2 linked regions of the Homo sapiens genome follow. The protein of the gene in region 1 interacts with the protein of each later gene in a pairwise test. Each region holds a gene or a part of one and is shown in the gene's direction. Other genes may lie near its edges.

What was found. Proteins that work in one complex are often made in the same cells at the same time.
Region 2: the proteins of SVOP (region 1) and TAAR1 interact in a two-hybrid assay, tested with the Homo sapiens proteins (one large-scale study listed by BioGRID and IntAct).

The regions. Positions count from the first base shown.
Region 1 is NC_000012.12:108,937,569-108,941,068, reverse strand, and holds part of SVOP (synaptic vesicle 2-related protein), read left to right. Parts: intron 1-159; coding exon 160-285; intron 286-2,113; coding exon 2,114-2,242; intron 2,243-3,500.
Region 2 is NC_000006.12:132,642,812-132,645,997, reverse strand, and holds the end of TAAR1 (trace amine-associated receptor 1), read left to right. Parts: coding exon 1-1,014; 3' UTR 1,015-2,686; downstream 2,687-3,186. UniProt on the Homo sapiens protein: Intracellular G-protein coupled receptor for trace amines, which recognizes endogenous amine-containing metabolites such as beta-phenylethylamine (beta-PEA), 3-iodothyronamine (T1AM), isoamylamine (IAA), cadaverine (CAD), cyclohexylamine (CHA), p-tyramine (p-TYR), trimethylamine (TMA), octopamine and tryptamine.

The DNA.
Region 1 (3,500 bases):
GCCCAACCATATAGACCACAGGGAAAGTGTGGCTATTCTAACCTTACTGACTCCGATGACCCCTTACCCACAGAGATACCCTTGTCCACAATGCCCCCATAATTCCTCTCTGTATGGACCATGCTACCCCCACCACTGACCCTGATTCTCCTGTGCCAGGTATTCTGGGCCATCGGGACAGTGTTCGAGGTCGTCCTGGCTGTGTTCGTGATGCCCAGCCTGGGCTGGCGTTGGCTGCTCATCCTCTCAGCTGTCCCGCTCCTCCTCTTTGCCGTGCTGTGTTTCGTAGGTATCCTTTAAGAGATTTCACCTTTTGCTGTCTGACATCTTACTGTCCACTCTATTTTGGTGGGGAGGGGATAGGGAAGGATACCAAAGCCACCTTTCAAGATTATTTTTTTTAAATCAGGAAATGAGACAAGGGAGCTATGGCCTGGGGTAGCCCCAGTATGGAGTGTTAGATTTCCTCCAGACAGACACTTCTGGGATGTTTTCTGGGGAGATAACTGGGGATGGGAGGATACATTGGCCCCATCATTGCAAAATCTACACTTAAAGTGATTGTATTGCACTAGTTGAGACTCTTAAGTTTCAAATGACAGAAACCCAATTCAAACTGGCTTGAGTAAAAGAGAGGGATAAATACATTTCAGAGGATTAAGTCAGACTTCAGGCATGGCTGGCTCCAGGAGTTTAAATGATCTCTTCATCTCATCTGTGCATAAACCACACCCTCTACTGAGATCTTGCCACATACTCATCATTTCATGGGCACATGCTTGAAACACTTTACAGCCAGTAGGCACTAAAATAAGCCTAGAGATGGGTAGTTCTCATGTACGGTAAATACCACAAAAATTCCTGGTAATGATAATAAGTATTAATAATTATTAAGCTTAACTGTGTGGCAGGCTCTGTGCTCCATGCATTATCATATTTATTCCTCCCAATAATCACAGGACTATAATGAACCCCTATATTAGTCAGGGTGATACCAGCTGCTGAAACAAATAAAGCCCACAAGTTCAGTAACAGCACGATAGGAGCTTCTCTCTCACTAACACAATAGTTCAGAATGACTTTTCTGGTTGGCAAGTGGAATTCTGGGCCCAGTTTTTGTCCAGCTGGTGGCTCTGCCATCCTCTAGGGCTTTGAAGTCTTCTACATACAGACAACAGACTTGCAAAAGGCAAGTGGAGACTGCACAGTCACTTCTTAAATACCTTGGCCAGGAATAGTCTGCTCATATGCCATTGGTGAACACAAGTCACTTGGTCCCACCTAGATGCAAAGGGAGCTGGGAAATGTAGTCCCTGTCTGGGCAGCCACATCTAAGGACAACTTTGCGCTATGAAAAAGGAAACAGAATGTTGGTGGGCATTTGCACTCTCTGCTATATCCTCTTTTTATTGATGAGAAAACTGAAGCCCAGAGGGGCTAATTGACTTGTTAAAGGGCCTACAGCAAGTAGACAAAAGAACTCTAAATCAGATCTTCTAACTCCTAGTCTTTTCTCCAGTATACCTGCTGTTTCAAACAGCTGTTGCTCCATTTTTACAGAAATGTATGTATGTAGTCATTTGGGGTTGGGACTTCCATTGGCCTAAAAATCTTTCTGATTTCTTTCTTTCTCTTGAACTGAGTTTGCAAGATGATGCTGAATACAGGTGAGGTGTAATTCCTTGAACAATGGGGGTGAGATTTCTGACAGTGATCTTAATTTAATTCAGCCCTCACCTGGAACTCTGAAAACAGCCCCAAATAATAGTAATAGCAACCGTGACAATAATAATAACTGCATTAACCCATACCAGGCACTGCACTAGGCACCTTGCCTGTATTATCCTGTTTAATCCTCTTAAGAGCCCTAAGAGGTAGGATCTCTTATCATTCACATTTTATGGAGAAGGAAATGAAAGCACAGAGAAGTCAAGTAATTGTACAGGGTCACACAACCAACATAATAAATGGTGGGGCCAGGATTTGAAGTCAGCTCTCTGGCTCCAGAGCCCCCACTCTTAAAGACCCCACATGCAACACTGTGTGGCTAGAAGCGAGTGCTCTGTTCCACCCTAACCAGCCACGCCTGGGTTTCCTGTCTCCCCCATCCCAGTGGCTGCCTGAAAGTGCAAGGTATGATGTGCTGTCAGGGAACCAGGAAAAGGCAATCGCCACCTTAAAGAGGATAGCAACTGAAAACGGAGCTCCCATGCCGCTGGGGAAACTCATCATCTCCAGACAGGTCAGTGCCTGGACCAATAGACTCTGCAATGTGCGTATCGGGGTGCATGCAGGGGAGTGTGTGCATATGGAGTAGGGCATGCATGCGAGGACACATGTGGGTATGTGTACCCAAGGTGGGGTGTGTGCGTGCACATGGAGCAGATGAGGGCCCAGTAGACAGGACCTGCAAGGGTAATTTGGCAACTCCAATCTGTATTTTCACTTCCAAGTTCTAAAAATGCTTCCTGGAGAATTTCACCAGTGATTAGAGAAAAGTAACCTCTGCTAATGGGTCCTGTAACTGCTCCTGCTTTGGTTTCGCCTTTCAGCACAGATGAAGTCTGACTAGCGAATGAGACTGATTGGCAAAAGCTGTGCAATAAAACCATATCAGGAAGGAGTGTGCTTAGATCTAGGGGATCAAACCGCACCCTGTGTAGGTGTTCTTAATGAATGGTGCCTCACTCCGCTGGTAACACCATCAGGGAGTCCACCACGGTGAAACTTAATGAGCACCTAGTATATGTAGGCACCAGCATTGCACACATGGGGAGAAAAGATTCGGATTTAAGGCTGCAGTCCCTGCCCTCAAGAACCATCCAAGCCGATTGAAGAAACATGACAAATACCTTAAGCAGACATCAGATCCTATAAAGAAATTACCTTTTAAAATAAAGTTATATTTCTGATTCTTTTTATATTATGCAAGAAGAACTGAATGGCATTTCACCAAGTTGGAAGGAGGTGTTTGGTCTGACAACATAGAGTCCAGGGGACCTGCCCCAAATCTACAGGGGCAGAGCAGGATGGATTCCTCAAGAGGTGCAGAAGCCTATTTGGTTGCCTTTGGGGAGAGATCCCTTCCATGGATGAGGGAAAGCCAGGCTGGTCTCGAACTCCTGGCTTCAAGTGATCAACCTGCCCCGGCCTCCCAAAGTGCTGGGATTACAGGCACGAACCACCACACCTGGCCATAGCATATATTTTTTAAAGAACATCGTAAAGCAAAGTTTGATAAATTTGTGAATTATGTAAAATTGGCCAATCGGTCATTTAGCTAATCAATCTTTTGGTAAATTGGCCTTTGGTGAATTAGTTTCTCAGCACATTAACTGTTGCCACCTAGACCTAGAACTGGGGAAGGCACATGTGTGTGTGTGAAATGGCTGGACATGCTTTGGACTGGTTTTCTGCTTGCTGTGTCCTTGGATCTGTGCTGAGGTCTGAGGGGCCAGGAAGGAGGGATCTGCTTCCCAAGTCCAGGTTTCCAGGTTGGA
Region 2 (3,186 bases), on another chromosome or scaffold:
CCCTTTTGCCACAATATAATTAATATTTCCTGTGTGAAAAACAACTGGTCAAATGATGTCCGTGCTTCCCTGTACAGTTTAATGGTGCTCATAATTCTGACCACACTCGTTGGCAATCTGATAGTTATTGTTTCTATATCACACTTCAAACAACTTCATACCCCAACAAATTGGCTCATTCATTCCATGGCCACTGTGGACTTTCTTCTGGGGTGTCTGGTCATGCCTTACAGTATGGTGAGATCTGCTGAGCACTGTTGGTATTTTGGAGAAGTCTTCTGTAAAATTCACACAAGCACCGACATTATGCTGAGCTCAGCCTCCATTTTCCATTTGTCTTTCATCTCCATTGACCGCTACTATGCTGTGTGTGATCCACTGAGATATAAAGCCAAGATGAATATCTTGGTTATTTGTGTGATGATCTTCATTAGTTGGAGTGTCCCTGCTGTTTTTGCATTTGGAATGATCTTTCTGGAGCTAAACTTCAAAGGCGCTGAAGAGATATATTACAAACATGTTCACTGCAGAGGAGGTTGCTCTGTCTTCTTTAGCAAAATATCTGGGGTACTGACCTTTATGACTTCTTTTTATATACCTGGATCTATTATGTTATGTGTCTATTACAGAATATATCTTATCGCTAAAGAACAGGCAAGATTAATTAGTGATGCCAATCAGAAGCTCCAAATTGGATTGGAAATGAAAAATGGAATTTCACAAAGCAAAGAAAGGAAAGCTGTGAAGACATTGGGGATTGTGATGGGAGTTTTCCTAATATGCTGGTGCCCTTTCTTTATCTGTACAGTCATGGACCCTTTTCTTCACTACATTATTCCACCTACTTTGAATGATGTATTGATTTGGTTTGGCTACTTGAACTCTACATTTAATCCAATGGTTTATGCATTTTTCTATCCTTGGTTTAGAAAAGCACTGAAGATGATGCTGTTTGGTAAAATTTTCCAAAAAGATTCATCCAGGTGTAAATTATTTTTGGAATTGAGTTCATAGAATTATTATATTTTACTGTTTTGCAAATCGGTTGATGATCATATTTATGAACACAACATAACGAACCACATGCACCAACCACATGGATTTTTTTTTAAATCAGTTACTTGAGTCAAAGTATGTATGGTGAGTTAAATTATGATGCTTATAGGTAATTTCCTATTTGGGACATAGTAGGTATACGCTTTTCCATTCTTACCACACATAATGGAACTTTGCAAATCCAGTATTTAAAGGCCTACATTTTATATAACTTTTCCTGCCCTTAGAAGAACTGCCATGAGTTTACTGTGGTACCTTAGTCAGCTGTTCAGTGGTGGAAACTATAGGGCTGAATTTGAGGATGCAAATCAGAATGATTTTGTCATATACGTATACATGTCCTGGTCACATATGTGTATAAGTCTTTTAGTAAAATCAACTAAAAGTACACACATTAAATGTTACCGCTAAATAATTGTTGACACATAATTTATTTGTATTGTTAATATATATTCCAATCCTTAAATATCTTGATCTTCACATTTTTAAATTATGTTTTTCTGATTCTCATGCTTCTAAGAAATTTGAAAAATAAAGGAAAATATAAAAATAAAATATATACAAACCAAATGAAATTAAAAAAATGTTATTCATAGTATACTTCCTGGTAAGGATTATATCATCTAAAATTCTTTATTTTATATTAATATTTCTCTTTTTCAACTTTTATTTTGGAGTCGGGGCATATGTGCACATATTAACTAAATATAATGCATGATGCTGAGGTTTGAGCTATGAGTAATCCCTTTTTGTGGCTGTATAACGTGACTGCACAGATGTACAAATATATTTTTAACCATTCCCTATTGTTAATTCCAGTTGTTTCTAACTTTTCTAAAAATAATATAAATTAAATGAAATTCCTGCTTTTTACCTGCCACTGAAGTCATGAAAATGTCTAGAAGGATTTTACCATGTCTTAAGGTCATATCTGGCATGATAGGGTTCAAAACACAGGCTACCTGGTATTAAACAAATTCACTTTGCTGGGCTCCACAATACACAGAAGGAGAAGCAGTCATCCATCAAAGTAGCTAAACATGAGGGCCAACAAGAAGTATAATCAGACTAGATGTACCATGGCTATTTAGATGGCATATATAAAAATACAAAAGAGGAACAAATAATGGTTTCAAATAAGATTCTCTAAAGGAAGTGGGCAAACATTCTAAATTACAAGCATTCATCAGCAATTGAGCTGATGAATACAAACTTCACATGGTCTGTTTCAGATTGAGTATCACTGGGGATTTGGATTTACCTTCTGCTCATGAATAAGTTAGGGTAAGGCAAATGATTTTAAACGTAACTAAATGCACACTGCTGCGTATAAATTTCTGTTTACAAATCTGAGGATCTCCGGAGGATATGTGAAATCCTTCCAGAAATTATAGTCTGTTTCTGGAGTATATATTTTGTTTCAATGATCTGTATCAATTTTTGCTCTAGTACTTTTAAAAACATTATGTTTTATGTTTTTAATTTAGTACACACAAGACTAAATAAGTAGTGTCCCTAATCACTCTCAGTTTCAAAAGAGTTTTTTTCACCTGTGAGACCAGTTTGACTTTTTTCACCTGTGAGTCCAGTCTGTCAAATTTTAAAAAGGAAACAAGCATTTAGTGAGTTTTCTATACTTTACAGTAATTTTATGTGCTGTTCTTCATTTGCTCCCATAATTCTTCTTAAGATTACTCTGAAGTGTTTTGTGCTTTTCTCTATGTATGTTTTGCCTATTCTGAATTTTTTTCTAAAACCATTATGTTTTCTTTGTAATCATTACTGCTGGTTATATAATAAAGTTTATATTAGCTTTTCAGTTGACTCGTTTGGGTTTTCATTATACAAATCATGTTATCCTCAAACAAGGCTAAGTTTTATCTTCTTTCCAATAATTATGATTCTGATTTATATTCCTTACTGTACTTCATTAGTTAGAATTTCTAAATCAGTATTGATAATGGTAATAACAATCATCTTTGTCTTATCTTACATTTACTTTAAAGTACTATACAGGTTTTAGCATTGATTCCACATTTATCTTGGGACAAGTTCATGACTCAAATAATTTTACATTTTTCACTCGGTACTAAAGCTCTTACAGTCTATTTTTATTGTAGGTTCTGTTTT